3 linked regions of the Homo sapiens genome follow. The protein of the gene in region 2 interacts with the protein of the main gene of each other region in a biochemical or structural test. Each region holds a gene or a part of one and is shown on either strand. Other genes may lie near its edges.

Region 1 (5,623 bases), on a different chromosome or scaffold from region 2:
CTTTTAGTGTTCATGGAGAATTAGAGTGGGGGCACACCTTATCTCAGGAGAGCAGAGCAAATCATGAGCATCGAGCTCTCTGATTCTTAGCTCAGGTCCACGTCACCTTCTTTGCTTACTGTCTTTTTGGATACAGGGTCCTCTGTCAGGGCATGGGCTGGGGTCTCAGGGTCACAGAGAGGGTCTGGTGACTTGAGTCTGGGGGCTAACAAGATGTCCTGCCCACAGGTGGTACAACTGAAGGCTGTGTTCCCACACGGTGGAGGCTTTGTGCTGGCCTTTGAGTTCATGCTGTCGGATCTGGCCGAGGTGGTGCGCCATGCCCAGAGGCCACTAGCCCAGGCACAGGTCAAGAGCTACCTGCAGATGCTGCTCAAGGGTGTCGCCTTCTGCCATGCCAACAACATTGTACATCGGGTCAGTCTCAGCATAGGCCGGGCATGGGGTCTGGGGAGCTGACTTGGCTTGGGGATGGGGCTAGCCCTTGTAAAAGGTGTGATAAGAAGTTGGGACAGAGCTGGTCAAGGCCTCCAGGTAAGTGGCCAGGGCATGGCCCTGGAGGAGGTGGGGACCGGGGCTGACCTGAGTGGTTAGACTGCCAAGCCCGCTTGTCCCAAGGTCCTATGGGGGATTTGGAGGGACTGATGCTTCTTTTGGTACTCCCAGGACCTGAAACCTGCCAACCTGCTCATCAGCGCCTCAGGCCAGCTCAAGATAGCGGACTTTGGCCTGGCTCGAGTCTTTTCCCCAGACGGCAGCCGCCTCTACACACACCAGGTGGCCACCAGGTAGGGAGGGCCAGATCCCTTCCAGTCTTCTCCATGGGGAAGAGATGCTTCTGGGCCTTTTCTCCAGACATTGCTTGTGGGGCTGGGGTCACCTCCCCAGGCATCCTTTTCTCAGCCCAGTGCCTGCCAGCCCTCTTCCTCGCAGGTGGTACCGAGCCCCCGAGCTCCTGTATGGTGCCCGCCAGTATGACCAGGGCGTCGATCTGTGGTGAGACCCCTGTGGGTGGTCAAAGGGTAACATGGCTCATGGATTTCTGCTAGGCTCTGAGGTCTCTGAGCTGTTTGGTGGTCTTTTCCCTGGTGGGAGTTTAGGCTTCCTTAAGGGTGTCTTCCCTGGTTGGGGTATTCTGAGCACTTTGGGGTTGGGGTTCCTCACTATGATGTTTTCGAGCTGGGTAGGGGCCAGGTGGGATGAGAATGGTGGTCCCAGGTGGGAAGCTTTCTGGGCTAGATGGGGAGGTGGTCTGAGCCGATATGTGCTGGAGTTAGATCCTAGGATATGGCATCTCTGAGCTGGTCAGAGGCCTGTGTCCTTGGACATGAAAGCTCTGAGCTTGTTTTGCAGCAAGAAGATAGTTGGCAGTGCCCATGGGTCTGAGATTTGGGGCAGGTTTGCAGGTCTGCCCCAGAAGTGTCCTAGAGCAGGAGTCTCCGAGAAGTCTTGGAACAGCTGGGGCTTTGCTCTGGGTTCTAGGGTTGAGGGCTTTGAGGGTTCAGGGACTGGGCCTCTGGACGTGAGGCTCCAGGGCTGGCTTGTGGGGCCTTGCCCTGGAGTGCAGTGTTAGAGCTGCTCTGTGGGTGGGTCTGTGGTCCATGGTGGGAGATCTCTGACCTGCTTGGGGCTCTGTGTCCACAGGTCTGTGGGCTGCATCATGGGGGAGCTGTTGAATGGGTCCCCCCTTTTCCCGGGCAAGAACGATATTGAACAGCTTTGCTATGTGCTTCGCATCTTGGGCACCCCAAACCCTCAAGTCTGGCCGGTTTGTAGGGGCCCTTGGTGAGGTGGGTGTGGGGCAGGTTTACTCCACTCCCAACAGCAAGTAACCACTCCCTCCCCTGAACCTTCTCTCTCCTGGCCCCAACCCCCCTTGATGGACAGGGACCACTGTCCTGGCCCAACTCAGGGCTTCCTCCTTCCTGCTGTCATTTGGGTTGGGGTAGATCCTGTCCTTTGTCCCTTTTCACCCCAGTACACACATGTGCAGTGTCTCAGCAAGCTGTGCACAGAGTCGTCATCTGAGAGGGCAAGGGGATGGATGAAGGAATACAGGGGTGGGTGAGTGAATGAATGATGGGTCAGGGAGACACATGGATGGGAGAGCACCCCCCATGTGAGTGTGTGTTAGGGGCTGAGAGTTGACAGCAGAGAGCATGGCAAGGGTCGGGAACTACTCTCATTGTACCCTGTTCCTTCTCCCTGGCCCAGGAGCTCACTGAGCTGCCGGACTACAACAAGATCTCCTTTAAGGAGCAGGTGCCCATGCCCCTGGAGGAGGTGCTGCCTGACGTCTCTCCCCAGGCATTGGATCTGCTGGGTCAATTCCTTCTCTACCCTCCTCACCAGCGCATCGCAGCTTCCAAGGTAGGGGGAGAGGCTGTAGTCTCTGCTCCTTCAGCTCCCCTCCCCATCACCCTGGTACTCTGTACTTGGTAGCCATGTGACCCCATCACATCAGCGACCCTCAGAACCTGTGATTGGCATGGACCAGCACCAGACATCTGGAACCCAGGGGACAGGGGCCTTGGAGCAGGTGTGCCTCTCATGAGTAGACCCCACTGGACATCCCCAGACTTCCCCTGAGGGTGGCCCATACGAGGGGCATGCCCAACTCTCAGGAGAGCGCGTGTCCGGGAGTGCAGGTTTCTGGGCTGCCCCTGACCCTGTGGCAGATACAGTAAGAGAGTCACTGGGGACTCATTCCTTTATTCCATTAGCAAGTATTTTCTGCACATCTGGCACATGCAGGGATTGTCCTGGGCCCTGCACAGATGGTAAACAATCAGTCCTACCTCCGCGGGGCACTCCTGGTGGTGAGGTAGCTCCAGGTCCAAAAGGTCACAAGAGGTCATGTTCTCCAGCTGTGGGAGCCCCAGGAGAGAGGCAAGGCCGACTTTGGGGTCAAGCAAAGCTTCCTGGTGGAGGGCAGGTTTAAGCATGAGATGTTTGAGGAGGTGTTCGCTGAAGAGAGAAATGGTGGGCAGAGGCCTGGAAGAGAGGACCCAGGAAGGCTGGTTATGGCTGGTAGGCCTGGGAGGACGATGACCACAGGAGCATGGGCTGACAGGTGTCAGGGTGTCTCTCAGGGGTCCCTGTCCCCTCCCTGCACTCAGCACCAGCCGCGTGTGTTTACATACGCCCTCTTGGTCTCCACTGTCAGCAGCTCCTGTGGGCTCTGTGTCCACAGTGTACCCAAGCCGTGTGACCCTTATCTCTTGGGTTGCCTCCCAGAATCTGGGTCTCCCCTCATCCCATTTAATCTCTTCTCCACCTGGCAGACAGAGTAACTTTATCCAAGTAGAACAGGACACATTCCTTCTCTGCCAGGGCCCTCCTGTGGCTCCATCTCAGAGGAAAAGCCAGGGTCCTTTTTGTGACCCACAGATGTCGTATGCTTGGGTGCCATCACCTCATGACGCTGCCTGCTGTTGTGCCCTGTGCTCACTCCTCTCCAGCCCCAGGGGTCAGTACACTTTTGTCCCTGGCCTGGAGCCTCATGTCCCACTTGCTTATGTCTCAAGTCTTGGCTTAAATGTCACTTCTCAGATGGCCTTCCCTCATGACTCTTCAGATCTGCAACCTCTCTCCAGGATTCCTCATTCCTCTGTCTTGCTTTCTCTCTTCCACTGCACTAATCATTATCTGACATACTGTGTATTTTACTTCATCTTGTTTATTACCCCCCACCCTCACTTATGTCAGAAAAACAGAGCTTTTGTCTGTTTTATTAACGGCTATGTTCCCAGCTTCTGGAATAGTGCTTCAGACATAGTAGACACTCAGAAAACACCCAGACACACTGAGTCAGCTGAATGCATAGATGAAGGAACATCTGCTTGAGGCTGGGGACAGGGAGGTGACTAGTTTCCTTCTGCTGTTCCTTACTTGCCACCCTCAGGCTCTCCTCCATCAGTACTTCTTCACAGCTCCCCTGCCTGCCCATCCATCTGAGCTGCCGATTCCTCAGCGTCTAGGGGGACCTGCCCCCAAGGCCCATCCAGGGCCCCCCCACATCCATGACTTCCACGTGGACCGGCCTCTTGAGGAGTCGCTGTTGAACCCAGAGCTGATTCGGCCCTTCATCCTGGAGGGGTGAGAAGTTGGCCCTGGTCCCGTCTGCCTGCTCCTCAGGACCACTCAGTCCACCTGTTCCTCTGCCACCTGCCTGGCTTCACCCTCCAAGGCCTCCCCATGGCCACAGTGGGCCCACACCACACCCTGCCCCTTAGCCCTTGCGAGGGTTGGTCTCGAGGCAGAGGTCATGTTCCCAGCCAAGAGTATGAGAACATCCAGTCGAGCAGAGGAGATTCATGGCCTGTGCTCGGTGAGCCTTACCTTCTGTGTGCTACTGACGTACCCATCAGGACAGTGAGCTCTGCTGCCAGTCAAGGCCTGCATATGCAGAATGACGATGCCTGCCTTGGTGCTGCTTCCCCGAGTGCTGCCTCCTGGTCAAGGAGAAGTGCAGAGAGTAAGGTGTCCTTATGTTGGAAACTCAAGTGGAAGGAAGATTTGGTTTGGTTTTATTCTCAGAGCCATTAAACACTAGTTCAGTATGTGAGATATAGATTCTAAAAACCTCAGGTGGCTCTGCCTTATGTCTGTTCCTCCTTCATTTCTCTCAAGGGAAATGGCTAAGGTGGCATTGTCTCATGGCTCTCGTTTTTGGGGTCATGGGGAGGGTAGCACCAGGCATAGCCACTTTTGCCCTGAGGGACTCCTGTGTACTTCACATCACTGAGCACTCATTTAGAAGTGAGGGAGACAGAAGTCTAGGCCCAGGGATGGCTCCAGTTGGGGATCCAGCAGGAGACCCTCTGCACATGAGGCTGGTTTACCAACATCTACTCCCTCAGGATGAGCGTGAGCCAGAAGCAGCTGTGTATTTAAGGAAACAAGCGTTCCTGGAATTAATTTATAAATTTAATAAATCCCAATATAATCCCAGCTAGTGCTTTTTCCTTATTATAATTTGATAAGGTGATTATAAAAGATACATGGAAGGAAGTGGAACCAGATGCAGAAGAGGAAATGATGGAAGGACTTACGGTATCAGATACCAATATTTAAAAGTTTGTATAATAATAAAGAGTATGATTGTGGTTCAAGGATAAAAACAGACTAGAGAAACTTATTCTTAGCCATCCTTTATTTTTATTTTATTTATTTTTTGATGGAGTCTTGCTCTGTTGCCCAGGCTGGAGTGCAGTGGCACAATCTCGGCTTACTGCAACCTCCGCCTCCTGGGTTCAAGTGATTCTCCTGCCTCAGCTTCCCGAGTAGCTGGGACTACAGGCGCGTGCCACCACACCTGGCTAATTTTTGTATTTTTACTCAAGACAGGGTTTCACCATGTTAGCCAGGATGGTCTTGATCTCCTGACCTCGTGATCTGCCTGCCCGGGCCTCTCAAAGTGCTGGGATTGTAGGCGTGAGCCACCATGCCCAGCCCCAGGCTCCCTTTATTTTTAAAATGTTTATTTTATGCTTCATGTGGATAAACTCTTCTGTGAGCACTCAGGGTGACTAACACTGCTACAGATGCTGGCCTTCAAGCACTTAGTGGAGAGAGAAAACATACTCAACCCTCGTTCTTGGCTTTCAGGAAAGTCTGATGT
Region 2 (7,030 bases):
TCTGTCTCTCTGGAGAACCCTGACTCTCATGATGGATGTCCCTCACGGGGTCCTTTTCCGGAAGACACCACCTATGTTCTTTCCTGTCTATGCTTGGAACTTGGGTGCAAACCTAGGCCGGATCTGGGGGACTCCCTCTGTGCTCCCTGGCCCTTCCTGGGATCTCCTGATTTTTGTTCTGTGGCTTTGGGTTCCTTACATCAGAGTCCAGCACAGTCAGTTAGAAATGCGTGTTGCCTTGCAAGCGGATACTAGTGCCTGTACACCTACAGCATGGATCTGTGAAAGTAACAGGAATAGTCACAACCACTATTTCATCCAGCGCTCGCCAGGGCCCAGGGTGTGACCTTCATGCAGTAATATAACTCATTTCATCTTCACGGCTACCCTGCGCAGTGGAGACTCTCTTTGTCCCTGGTTTATAGGTGAGGAAACCAAGGCCCAGAGGGTAGCTCACTCCACTGAGGTTGCACAGCCAGGAGGTGGCAGCTTTGTCCCAGAGTCAGGCCATAAGCAGGGCAGGCGCAGCGGGTCCGAGTTTCTCGGCACAGCACTCACCCTTAGCTCAGGCAGTGCACCTTGGTGGTCTCTCTGACTTATTATACAGAGAATGCTGGGTATGACTTGCCAAACTCATTCACCAGAAACTAACCCACTAGGGTAAAAACCCTTATGTCAGGCTTCAGGCTGTCACTAGCAGCGGCATTTCCTGCCCTGGAAACCTGACTTCCCCCAGCTGCCTGCATGCCTCAGGCAGGCACGGCTCCCTTCTGGGCTGCTGCTCATTGTCTGCATGTTGGAGATATTCAGAATGCCCTGTTACACCTTGTACTGTGGGTCCACTCCATGTGGGATCTTGATGCTGCTCTATAATCCCTCACCCTTAGTTTTAAAACCCAAGCAGTTCTGAAGAACAGTTGTTCTGGTAAGTTTGGGCAGCTCGTTCAGTGGCAAAACCTGACCTGAACTACTAAGAAGCTGCTGATGGTCTTGATTACTCTCCAGTGGCATGTCTGGAGGTTTTGCTGCAGAAATGGCCGTGTATGTGCTTGTGATTACTAGGTACTGCCTTGGACCTGCTGGGGGTGTCCTATGATAGAGCATGTACACAAAATCATGTGGGTTTTTTTGTATTGTTTTGTTTTGGTTTTTTTTTGAGACAGAATCTCACTGTGTTACCCAGGCTGGAGTGTGATGGCACAATCATGACTCACTGCAGCCTTACCTGGGCTCAAGCAATCCTCCCACCTCAGCCCCCCAAAGTAGCTGGGACTACAGGCATGCACCACCATACCTGGCTAGCTTTTTGTTGTTGTTGTTATTTTTTTCTAGAGATAGGGACTCACTATGTTGTCCAGGCTGGTCTTGAACTCCTGAGCTCAAGTGATCCTCCCACCTCAGCCTCCCACAGTGGTGGGATTATAGGTGTGAGCCACCACACCCGGCCATCTACCAAATCACCTTACTAAAATCCAAAAAATTCCCAATCCCCAAATACACGCAGCCCCCAGGGCTTCTTCGGGGATTGTGAACCTGTGTTACCATTTCACCAGCTCCAGACATCATTACCCATGAGTACTCGCTGACGAAGATAATGCTTTTAGAAACAACTTGTTTACTTAGCACTGTGGATTCACCTGCAGTTGTAAGAAGTAATGCAGAAATCCCAGTTTTCCCTAAAGGTATATCTGGCATAACTACATAAATATCACAGTCAGAATACTGACCTTGATACAATCCAACTGCCACTTTAAAAAAAAAGTTCAGTGTGAAGTTCTGACCCGGTGGGCCTTCAGGAGCTGAGTCCCTTCTGGTCTGGACTGAATGACCTTCCTCAGGAGCAGGAGCCCAGCAGGGCATCTTCACTGTCCCAGCTAGACCTTGCGTGTCGCAGCAGCTACAGTAGCAGCAGGCCTTGGGATGAGCACTTGCCTGCTGCTGCCTGGCATTAAGTTCTCACGACAATCCTCCAGGGGGTGCTGGCACCACCCCTACTTTCTAGAAACTGAGGGAGGCTTGAGATGTGAGGCCGCCTGTCCTGGCAGGCCTGGATTCAGACCCAGGAGGCCTAGTCCCAGAGCCCAGGCTCATAACCACTGCCCCACGCTGCCTCCCTGGAGGGCATGCAGTGTGCCCCAGGGACGAGAGGCCCAGGCAGGGAGGGGAGGTGGTGGAAGGGGAGCCCATCCCAGCGTGCATAGCGGAAATCAGGAGCCTGGGCTTTGGCGCAGTTTCGCCTGGGAGAGAAGGGAATCCTGGCTTCCTGGGTGGGTGACTTCACCTCCCCGGGCCTTGGTTTTCTTGTCTGTCAGATGAGGATTGTGAAAACACTGCCATGTAGAGGTGCATGGAGGATAAATGAGCAAGTGAATTGCTTACACAATATTAGGCACATAGTAAGTGCTCTAGAAGTGAGCTGTGTATTATTATTGTTGCCGCTGCCACTGTTGGTATTCCCACTCCCTTTCTCCTCCCTGCGCTGTCATTGTTTGCCTTCATCTGCCTTCCCAGCCCGCCCACCCCTGGAGAACAGGAGACTGGCGGGGAGGAAATGCTCAGTCACTCATTCATTTCTTTGGAGAAAGGGGGGAAGGGAAATTCATTGACTGCTGCACGCACAGCTATGGCTGAGCCTCAGCCCTGCCCTCACAGGGCCACCTTCCAGCGGGGTGGACAGACCGGTTCCGAACCAGCAGGGCTCACGGCTGGAACAAGGGAGCCCAGGGGCCTTTGGGAGCCCAGAGGGGGTGCCTGACCCAGCCTCTGGGGCTTCCTAGAGGAGGGATCAGTGGGGCTGAGACCTGGAGGAGGAGCTGGAGGTGCAAATGAGGTGCTCTGGGCAGAGGCAGCCTGCATAAAGGCCTGGAGCCAGCATGCCGGGGACATGAGTGGTCTGGCTGGGAGGTATAGAGGGGTGGGAGGAGCCGCATGGGCCAGGCCACATGCTGGTTTGGATGCCAGCCGGGTGTGGGCACATAACCACTCCTCATTGGGAAGGATGCCAGGGGCTGCCTGGCACTGTCTTCCTCCCCTGCCTTACACCCACCCACAGCCCAGGTGGAGCTGCCTGGCAGGGTGCCCTAGGCCTGCCCAGACAGGGAGGAGGCCGTGGCCTGCTGGGCCTGGGCTCTTCTCACCCCGCTTGGCGCACACACCTGTTTCCAGCATGGATGAGCCTCACCCCCTGCTTCTGTCACACCAACCTGCAGGGGTCAGTGGGTGTCTCTGTGGAGGTTTCTGAGTCACGCTGCCAGGCTTTCCACCAGAGGCCACCCCTGCTCCTTGAGGGCCGGCCCTGGGACCTCCCAGTCTGTCCTCTGGCACAGGAGATACGGGGGTCTGCTCCTGGGGAGGCTAAGGATGGTGGGCAGGTCAGACGGGGGTCTACGTGACTAAACAGGTGAAGTCACTTGCCCAAAGTCACATGGCAAGTAAGTAGCAGAGCCAGGATCTGAATCCAGCCCCCAAATCCAGTCTGCTTTTCAGGTTAGAAGATCAGAGTTTGCAGGAATCGGGGTAAATAAGGTTGCGGGGATAGGGCTCCTTTCACTGGGAACTTGCTATGTCCCAAAGCTGAACGCCCCATGCCTATTGTGTATGATCTGGTCATCAGCGCAGCAGCCCCAGAAGGGGGACCGTGAAGAGCAGTGGGCGCCCACGTGGAGTTTCCTTTCACCTGGCACCACTGTGCAGGGTTCACAAGCATTCACCCATGCAGCTCTCCCAGTGGCCCTCTTGAGGGAGATATATATGGTTCTCAGTCCCACCTCAGAGAGAAACTGAGCCACAGAGAGGCAGACTCACCTGCCTGAGGTCACCCAGCTCATGACTTGCAGAGCTGGGATTTGAACCCGGTCTCAGGGATCTGTGACCCTCAGTTCCTCTCTTCAGTGGACAAAACAGGGAAATCTTTTGTCCTGGGCCTCCCCAGAGTGTGAGGGAGGGAAGTAACAGCACTCGGTGCTGCTGCCCACCTGCCCCTGCTGCATGCCGGGCCCCCTGTGTTACTTATTCCTTCCCACAGCCCTGGCAGGGGAGCCCTGTGTCACCTCCCTGTTAGAGATTAGGTAACCTGGGCTTGGGGAGTCCATGTCGTCCAGCAAGTCATTGGCCCTTTGTGTGAGTCTGGGCTGTTCTGTGACCGTAGACCCAGCCGGGCCCTTCCTCTCATGCTCCGCCACCTTGGTAGTCACGATAGTAGCATCAGGACCTGTGCTTGGGATGCTGCTCACCCCACAGGGATTCTCACAGGGCACCTGAAGCTGAGCCCGCAGTCCTCAGACAGGCAGTTGTTTGATTTTAGCGCGCTCATAGCTAAGATTGATGAAGTGCACCCATGCGGGCAGCTTTGCTGTGCCCAGTTTTGGGGTGCAGAAACCAAGGCTCGGCAGTTAAATACGTCTAGGGTTGCACCATCAGCACCTGGCGCCCAGGCGGTCTGACTTCCACTTTCATGGAACCCAGGGCTGGGCAGCCTGGGGGCAACCGCTGTGCCCCCACCTCAGCCTCAGTGTGCACGCCCCTTCCCTCCCACCCAGGTGGTCAAGGTGAAGCCCCATGACAAGGATGCCAAAATGAAATACCAGGAGTGCAACAAGATCGTGAAGCAGAAGGCCTTTGAGCGGGCCATCGCGGGCGACGAGCACAAGCGCTCCGTGGTGGACTCGCTGGACATCGAGAGCATGAGTGAGTCAGGCCTGGATGCTCCACGCTCCAGCCCAGAACATTCCACACGGGCCTTCTCCATTCCCTGGGGGTGGGGTTGGGCTCAGGGGTGGCCCCTTGTTCTGTCCCCAGGCTGGTGTCTGTCGCTCCTCTGCCTGTGTTCCAGGGCGCTCCATCCACAGCCCAAAGCTGGGCCTCACGCTTCCCAGTGAGCGAGATTGGAGAGCCATGGTCCCCCTGCCATTTCACGGGCCCTTCCTCCGGGTAGTAGCACAGTCCCCACAGGCTGTGTCTGATTCACCTCTAGGTGCTGAGAAGATCCAAGGGATTGTTGTGGATCATCCCACAGATGATTATTGAGCATCTCCTATGTGCCCGGCACTGTCCTAGGCACTAGGGGTACAGCTATGAACAAAACCCTTCCTGTCCACATGGAGCCGATATTCTAGGAGGGAGATAAGATGATGAATAAGTCATGAAATGAATAGTGCTAAGTGCCATAAAACTGAATAGAGTAAAGGGGGGTGGGTGAAGGAAGACAGGGAGGTCAGGAAGAGGCCTCTGGGCCAGACCTGACCCAGGAGGGGACTCTTCACTCACTCTGTCCCGCTCTCGACCTGTGTGTCCACACCCAAGTTTTCCCCATCCCTGGGAGCGAGACCCCCTTCTCCCTCATAGTGGCTGTGGTCACTGACTCTCGTGTCCCGTTGTTCACACCCTAGCCATTGAGGATGAGTACAGCGGACCCAAGCTTGAAGACGGCAAAGTGACAATCAGTTTCATGAAGGAGCTCATGCAGTGGTACAAGGACCAGAAGAAACTGCACCGGAAATGTGCCTACCAGGTAATGCATCTGTCAGGTACTGGGCACCCGGGAACCCTGGGATGGCATCACAGCACTGCCAGCCGCGGGCACTGAGCAAAACGACAGGAGAAGGGCGGCCATGACAGCCAACACCAAACAGGAGTCGTGTGCCGGACACTGTGCCGAGGGCTTACCACATGATCTCATCTCGTCCCACAGCAGTTTGGGGAGGTGGCAGGCAGTGCCATTTGACAGATGCAGGGACAAAGGGCCAGAGAGGTCAGGTGACTGGCCCAGGGTGAAAGGTGAGGAAGCAGTAGAGTCTGTTGCTTTGAGTTCTCATCCCAGGCTCTTGGGCGTCTGTGGCTGCTGGTTGTTGCAGGTTGTTTGGGACCTGCTGGTTGCTCCTAGTCCTGAGACCACCCCCTCCCCGACCTAGGAGGGCAGCTGGCCACAGGGTGTTAACTGGTTGAGTGAGACTCAGGCTCTGGTATCCCATCTGGACAAGGCCCCCTGCCCTGACCTCTCAGGGCTACAGGGACCTTACCATAGTTTTGGGGAACTGCTGAGATCCACCACCTCCTGGGTTGGTTATGAGGATGCGGGACTTCTTGTGAGTCAGGTTGACAGGCAGGTGACTCTTACAGGAGTGTGCAGGCAATATGGGAAGCCGCCATTTGATAGGTCCTAGAGAGCCAAGTGGCCTGGGTTCAAATCTCTACCTTCCCACATACTAGCTGTGTGCCTGTGGGCAGATGGCTTCACCTCTCTGTGCCTTGATTTCCTCCTCTGTGCAGTGGAGATAATCATACTGTCTCCACCAAGGGCTGTTGTAAGGAGTAACTGCGTGTAATCCACATCAGTGCTTCGAATAGTGCCTAGCACATGGTTAGTGCTCTGTATGGGTTAGCTGTTGATCATGTTGTTAAAGGTGAGACAGGAGGAGGAATGTCCACATTCCTGGTTGTTTTTAATTGAAGTATAATTAATGCACAATAAAATACACAAATCTGAAGTGTCCTGTTAGATGAGTTTTTAGAGTTTTATGTGCCCACTGCCCAAACAAGTTACAGAACATTTCCATCAACCAGAAAGCTCCCTTTGACCCCTTTCTAGTCAGCCCTCACTCCCATCCCAGGGGCAACCACTGATCTGATTTTTCACCACTGTAAATTAATTCTGCCTGGTTTTGAATTTCATTTCAATGTCATATGGGCTTACAGCGTTTAGTGTCTCTTCTTTCATGTGGCACAATGTGTGTGGGATTCATACATGGATGTTGTGTATATCGGTAGCTCAAGTCCTCCATTGTCTGAACAGCCCATGACTTGTTTATGCAGTCTTCTTTTGAGAGACATTTGGGTTATTTCTACTTTGTAGCTTTTATAAGTATAAGCTGCTATGAACTTCTTGGACAAGTCTTTTTGTGAACATGTTTTCATTGTTCATGTTGAATTTCTCTATTGATTGTCTTTTGTTTCATTGATTTTTCATTCATTATTCTCTATGCATGCTTGAGGTTTAATTTGCTTTCTTCTGGCTTCTGAAGATGGACATTAA
Region 3 (7,030 bases), on a different chromosome or scaffold from region 2:
GCCTGGTGGACACTTCAGGTGGCAATTTAGTCTGTCTGCATTAGGCCAGGCTTCTCTTCTAGCTCTGTGACGGGGCTGGCTCTCAGGGAAGATCCCCTGGGGGAGGTAAGACCATGCTTATAAGCTCCTGCCACACATGCAGCTGTCAAAGCAACCCAGATCACCTCGGAGCAGGCGCACGGAACAGCTGAGCACACGACTTCTGCTCCTTTGCTCAGAGCAATGACTTCTGGCTTTTATTCTTTGTCCAGGTATGTACCCTCTGGTCACAGCGACCCAGGATGCTGACAGCAGCCGGAAGCTGGCTCACTTGCTGAACGCCGTGACCGATGCTTTGGTTTGGGTGATTGCCAAGAGCGGCATCTCCTCCCAGCAGCAATCCATGCGCCTGGCTAACCTCCTGATGCTCCTGTCCCACGTCAGGCATGCGAGGTACGCGCCCTAAGGAGCTGCTCTGCTTGGGCTTGGGATGGGATTATGTGCTCCACGGAGGGTGAAGTGATTTGGGAAAAGTGTCTGCAAGTTAAGGAAAATGAATGCCTGAAAGGGAATGGGGAATTTGTCAGTTCACACACCTGTAAGCAAAGATGGGCACAGAGTGGGCATGGAAGGAATGTCATGTGGTATCTTACAGGCTCTGCATGGCAGCCAGTGGTGGCTCATGGGTTTTTCAATTGCTGGGGTTTATAGCCTGTTTATGGAGTCCTAAAAGGGGCAGTTCCTCCCCTAACACGAACTGCCACCCCTGTTTACACCACCCAGGGCTGAGGCCCTGAGGCCACTTTTTGTGGAGAGGCTAAGACCCGCTCCCCTAGATGGCCCCTCGAGCTGGTGATGCGAAGAAGTGCACAAATGCTTCCCTAAGAGTTGTTCTTTCGGTGGCATCAGGAAATTAAGGATAAGACTTAAGAGAAGTGGTGGACCCAGCAGATTTAGGAAGGCAGGGCTGTAGGTAGGGCATGTTTCTGATCAGGAAACGTAATTGTGTGTGCTGATGAAGAGGGTGTGCAGTGGTGGCTACTGTTGGTACAATGATGCTCAGTGCTTGGTGTCACCCACGATGAGGGTAGCCTTGCCCTGGAGCTGGAGGAGGGGAGGGGAGGGTGGAAGGTAATTAACTGGTCACTGAGGAGGCAAGTCTAGAGGCTGTGGAGAAGGACAATATACACCTCGAGAATCTTAAGTGAGATGAAGACCTCTGCCTTTCCCCTTTAATGATTGCTCAGCACATAGCCATTTGCAGAACAGATCCTGTGTTTGTAGATTCCTTCATTGTGAATTTATCTGCTTGCTAAAATTTATTTGTAACCCCAAAATCAATATTTGTGGTGTTTTTGAGGTCATGAACAGAGTGGCAGAAATTTTGAGTTGCCCTTTATGTACAGTCCCAGCTGAGATGGAACAAGCAGCTGCTCTCATACTGTCAACAAGTGTCCTTTACTTGGTCTACTTAGTGCCATGGTTTTACATTTTTGTGCTTTTGGTGACTTCACTGTTTAAAATGCCCCCCTGGTGTGGTGCTGAAGACCTGTCTAGTGTTCCTCGGTGTGAAAAAGCTGTGATGTGCCTTATGGAGAAAGTATGTGTTAAGCTTTGCTCGGGTGTGAGTTATAGTGCTGCTGGCCATGAGTTCAATGTTAATGAGTCAATGGTATTTATCACATAAGGCATCTTTAGAAAGAAACACACATAAAACAAGGTTTTGTATTGATCAGCTGATGAAGATGTGGCCAGAGGCTTGCAGGAACCTAACCCTGTATTTCCCCTATGAGTGAGGATTCAGTGTTCACAGTGACTTTACGGAACATAATTACCGCAAACAATGAGGATTGATTGTCCTATGTGTCAGGCCATTGTAGGTGTGTGGTGGGACACAGAGGCTGACAAGACATCGTCCTTGCCCTTGAGCCTAAATTATCAGGGGGAGCTGGATGCACGAGCCATGGATAAATGGGCTGGGGGAAGAGTGGGTTTAGGGGTGGGGTAGACTGGCTCTGAGCAAAGAGAGCCGGGGAAGGCTTCGGGGTTCCTGTGGCTGCCTCGGAGGAGGGAATCTCAGCACCTTTTTGTCCCCATAGTAACAAGGGCATGGAACATCTGCTCAACATGAAGTGCAAAAATGTGGTCCCAGTGTATGACCTGCTGCTGGAGATGCTGAATGCCCACGTGCTTCGCGGGTGCAAGTCCTCCATCACGGGGTCCGAGTGCAGCCCGGCAGAGGACAGTAAAAGCAAAGAGGGCTCCCAGAACCCACAGTCTCAGTGACGCCTGGCCCTGAGGTGAACTGGCCCACAGAGGTCACAGGCTGAAGCGTGAACTCCAGTGTGTCAGGAGCCTGGGCTTCATCTTTCTGCTGTGTGGTCCCTCATTTGGTGATGGCAGGCTTGGTCATGTACCATCCTTCCCTCCACCTTCCCAACTCTCAGGAGTCGGTGTGAGGAAGCCATAGTTTCCCTTGTTAGCAGAGGGCACATTTGAATGCAGCGTTTCCACACTCAATGGCCTCATAGGATCTCAGTGTGGTCTTTCTTACTTTCCTTCTTCCTTCCTCCCCTTTGTGAAACATCTTAAAGGTTTTGGAATGAATGGTGGAAATCTGACTTGGAAGGGCTGCGAATCAGAAAGGGGAGAGGAAGTGACACGCTTACAGAAGTGGGCTAACCCTTCTTGTGTGGCACACACTACCCTTCCCTCTGAGAGTTGACCTTTGCTGTTTTCCGGACCACTCCATTGTAAGATTGAAAACCCCTGTGGCAATTGCGTACTTACCTCCCAGGCCTGTGGGGACTGATCATATCATATGATGCTTATTCTGTCAAAGGCCAGAGGGACTGTGGTTAAGCTGGGATGTGAGTCATGTTCTCTCCCTGACCTTGCTGCCAGCTGCACACAGATTTGTCCCTCTCGATTTGTATTCACAGAGCCTGCCAATAATTTGGGGTATGTGTGTATGAGCGTGTGATCATTTTCATGCAGGACTGTGGGAGATACAAATCTCGCTGCTTCTGGAGCTGCTCTTCCTTAAACCTGTTGTCCCATGGGGCCAGCGTGGGTGCTGGAGAAAGGCCGTGTTTGCAGGAATGGGGTTCTCTCCTGTGGGTGTGGGTGACAGCCACAGTGTTTCCCTGGGGCAATGTGGATGCAGTTTCCATCTTGTACAACCTCATAAGTAGCAGCCACAATTGCCCCATCAGTCACCACAAGTAGTCAGGGATACTTTGGGCTGTGGATGTGTGCAGTGTGCTGTTTTATGGATGGATGAGTAGCTATGCACCCCAGTGTGTCAGCTCTGGGGCCACACTGTATAGCCTTGATGAGTACGCCCCTTGAACAAGACCCAGTTTGTGAACTCTCCTTAAAGAGAAATATTTAGGGATAATTATTTATAGCAAGAAAGAATTCTTTTACACTTGAGAGCTCTTTTAAAAATATTTTCTTATTGGAAAATTTATATGGTGGGCAGGGTGAAAAAGAAACAGTAAAAATATTAGTTCTTATTCCAAGTGGAACATAAATAGGACATGAAGAAGGGCACCTCTGAAATGACAACTTTAACTCACCTTTTAAAAGATGTGAAATTTCCAGTTTTGGATACACGGTGAATATGTAAAATGAGTAACAGCATACTATGGAAGCCAGCAATTAAATAATCATGTTTCATTATTGCAGTAACGTTTTAAACAATTACCTTGTGATATGATATTAAATATATTTTCTTTTTGAAAATATGTTCACTTTGGGTAGCACATCCTGTATTTACTAAGTCATTAGGAAGACTGCATTCAGTGTTACCAAGACTGGTTTTTGCTAGTAAGACCTCGAATAATCCATAATTTTGATATTGGTGCAATTTTACTATAAGTTGAGCTTAGCTGTTTCAGAAATGCTTGGACAAGTACCTAGAGAACACACTGATGTCTGTGTTCTGAGGCAGTCTGAAGTTATTCTTAGAGACTCAGTTACAGCTTTAGTAAGATTTAGTACAGGCAGGATAAGCTTGGTTTCATAGGAACCAGGGAACCAGTGTTAGTGTCAGCTTCTTTCCTCCTGGTCAGCCTAGAATCCCCCACTCCCAATAGAGGGGTTTGGAAGCTGGAGAGTAGGAAGTAAGAGGCAAAGAAGGCAGCCTTCAGCAACTCATTATCTGCCAGTGAAATTCTATTAAATGTATTTTTAAAAGAGATTACCAGGTAACAAAAACATAAAAAACCAAAACAAGGCCAGATGTGGTGGCTCACGCCTGTAATCCCAGCACTTTGGGAGGCCGAGGTGGGCGAACCACTTGAGCCCATGAGTTTGACTCCAGGCTGGGCAACATGGAAACCCTGTCCTACAAAAGATACAAAAATTAGCCAGGCGTGGTGGTGCAGGCCTGTAGTTCCAGCTACCTGGGAGGCTGAGGTGGGAGGATCACCTGAGCCTGGGGAGATCAAGGCTGCAGTCCATTGCACTCCAGCCTGGGTGACAGAGGGAGACCCTGTCTCAAAAAAAAAAAAAAAAAAATTGCCACGAAATATATATATATATATATATATAATTTTTTTTTTTTGAGAGTAGATCTTAAGACAGAGATCACTTCTACTCCTGGGAGTGAACTGGCAATGGCAATCCCTTTAGAGCCTCGAGTGGGCAGTATCAGGAGCGCCGCACAGTGAGTTTCCAGCTGAGCTATTCTCACCGAATCTCGCTCTGTTCTCACAGCACCCCTCTGTCAGGCCTGTCTCATAGTGACTGCCCACCAGGACTGACTACAAAAGACTTGACCCTAAAATAGTCTTGAAGGGATTTTTCTCAAAAAATTAAGGCGGGAACACAAGACAAAGCTGTCAGCCTAGTCACAAATCTGAAGACTCAACTGCATTAAAAATAGTGCAAAATCGGCAGGAGCTGTACAGTGCGAGTCTTGGTCTGGAATACTCCCCCTGCTAACTCAGCTGGAAGGGCAACTATCTTAGATTTCAGTAAGGAAGAAAAATCAGTTACCAATACTTGGCAGAGCCATATTATATATCCATATATATTTATGTATATAAGTGGAATTGAAGCAATTCTAGAATTTTCTAGCATGTGAAAGCAGGGTTTAGTTCTTATTTACGTCTGCTAAGGGACTTTTCAAATTCAAAGTGAACCTTCTGTTTATAGGCCTATTTTGAAACAAAGTATCCTCACTTAATAAGATTTGACACCTTTTTTTTTTTTTTTTTGAGACAGGGTCTGACTCCTGTTGCTCAGGCTAGAGTGCAGTGGCGCCATCATGGCTCACTGCAGCCTCGACCTCCTGGGCTCAAGCGATCCTCCCACCACAGTGCCCCATCCCACCCCATTCCCGCCCTCGCCGAGTAGCTGGGGTGCACACCACCACTCCTGGCTAATTCTTTTAATATTTGTAGAGATGGGGTTTTACTATGCTCCCCAGGCTGGTCCTGAACTCCTGGGCTCCAGCGATCTGCCTGCCAAGGCCTCCCAAAGTGCTGAGATTACAGGCATGAGCCACTGTGCCCAGCCCCGCCACATTTTTTTTTAAGTTGCTGAAAATCTTTTAAAAAGATAAAAACACATTATTTAGTATCTAAAGATAATATCTGTGCCAGACACAGTTCTCAGTGCCTCAGACATTCACATTTAATCCTTATTATAATAACTGCTATTTCCTTATTTTCTGGTTGTGGAACTAGACACGGTCTAAGCAAACTTGCTGAAGGTCACGTGGGGAGTAGGTGATTGAGCTGAACACAGGCAGTCCAAGTCCAGTGCTGACAGTGACCATGCACTTCAAACAGTTTAAAAATTTAAAGAAAAATATTTTAAAACTGCAGAATCTATCAGGTGCAACCTGACATGCACGGCTGCTGTGATTTAAATGGGGCCCCCTTGTGATACCCCCTTACCTCCCACCACAATGTCCAGAACACCCCTACAGACACAGTAAGTTTGTAAACCTCTCACATCAAAGTTCAACTCCACCTTTCATATCTGTGTAAATTAAAGCCCACGGGGGCAAATTCACCTATTCAAGGTCATAAAACTACTCATGGCAAAGCTTGGACTGGCACGCAAGTCTTCTGCTTGCCTAGCGGGCCAGTATTGCTCCTGCCCCAGGACTTGCTTCTGTGAGAATCTGCTTTGTGAGCTGAGTCGCAGCAGAATGGAGGGGCGGTGAAGTTAGGGTTGTCTTCTGCTGTACCTTTAGATCCCATCTCCTCAGCTTAGATGGGTCTGCATGAGCCTTTACACAACAGCAGCAATGACAGATGGAAAAATAAGATGCATAATCTGTTATTCCCATTGTCCCATCTCAGGTTCATGAGCTCTAGTGGGTACTGTGATCACCTCCTGTCTGTGACTGCTTTCCCCAAACACGTGGAATATGTTCCTTGGAAGTGTACTCATGTAAAATTCACATCTTTTAGGCACTGCTGCTTCCCTGTGGAGTGTGATATACTACAGTGTGAAAACACGTGCCACTTATTCTTTATAGCTCTCAAACTTGCTGGAATTTTGGCTCCAGTGGCAGCTCTTAAGATGTGCATTGTCTGTGATGTATGATCGTAGTGCCATTTTTGTTGCTTTGGAGTCAGGGAGGTTTTTTGTTTGTTTGTTTGTTTGTTTTTTAATTCCGAGGATCCTATTCACTTGTAGGGCCAGCCACTGGTAAACTGGTGGTGGGTTTCCTCTATGGGAAGCACATAAGGAGTGGTGATACCAGCCGCGAACAGTTCCTGTTAACTGTACAATGGATGTTTTTGCATTTGTTTCCTCTGTTGGGTGTCTAAATGCCTTAACTGTTGGTCCTATACCTTTTGTCATTCAATGTGTACTTCAGAGCCTGTTGGTTGGCTATAATTTGCCATTTTCTCAGACGAATGCTTTGTATCATTACACTAATTTGTTGACTTCATTTGCAGGCTTTACATTTGGGCCTTGTAGAAATGAATGTTTGCTGCTCTGTGAAAGCAGATTTTGAGACCTGCTTTCCCTTCCTCCAGGGAGTGTTTTCCTTACTGTGTCCCTTTAATGTCTATGGCACTGT

What was found. The genes of interacting proteins can lie anywhere in the genome.
Region 1: the proteins of PPP5C (region 2) and CDK20 form a complex in vitro, tested with the Homo sapiens proteins (one study listed by BioGRID).
Region 3: the proteins of PPP5C (region 2) and ESR2 form a complex in vitro, tested with the Homo sapiens proteins (one study listed by BioGRID).

The regions. Positions count from the first base shown.
Region 1 is NC_000009.12:87,965,941-87,971,563, reverse strand, and holds the end of CDK20 (cyclin-dependent kinase 20), read left to right. Parts: intron 1-228; coding exon 229-417; intron 418-666; coding exon 667-788; intron 789-918; coding exon of another isoform or gene 919-933; coding exon 934-996; intron 997-1,644; coding exon 1,645-1,768; coding exon of another isoform or gene 1,769-1,789; exon of another isoform or gene 1,790-1,790; intron 1,791-2,214; coding exon 2,215-2,370; intron 2,371-2,696; exon of another isoform or gene 2,697-2,994; intron 2,995-3,390; coding exon of another isoform or gene 3,391-3,469; intron 3,470-3,891; exon of another isoform or gene 3,892-3,904; coding exon 3,905-4,102; 3' UTR 4,103-5,123; downstream 5,124-5,623. UniProt on the Homo sapiens protein: Required for high-level Shh responses in the developing neural tube.
Region 2 is NC_000019.10:46,371,066-46,378,095, forward strand, and holds part of PPP5C (serine/threonine-protein phosphatase 5), read left to right. Parts: intron 1-4,538; coding exon 4,539-4,686; intron 4,687-5,387; coding exon 5,388-5,509; intron 5,510-6,421; exon of another isoform or gene 6,422-7,030. UniProt on the Homo sapiens protein: Serine/threonine-protein phosphatase that dephosphorylates a myriad of proteins involved in different signaling pathways including the kinases CSNK1E, ASK1/MAP3K5, PRKDC and RAF1, the nuclear receptors NR3C1, PPARG, ESR1 and ESR2, SMAD proteins and TAU/MAPT.
Region 3 is NC_000014.9:64,228,372-64,235,401, reverse strand, and holds part of ESR2 (estrogen receptor beta), read left to right. Parts: intron 1-214; exon of another isoform or gene 215-251; coding exon 252-432; exon of another isoform or gene 433-540; intron 541-2,078; coding exon 2,079-2,265; 3' UTR 2,266-7,030.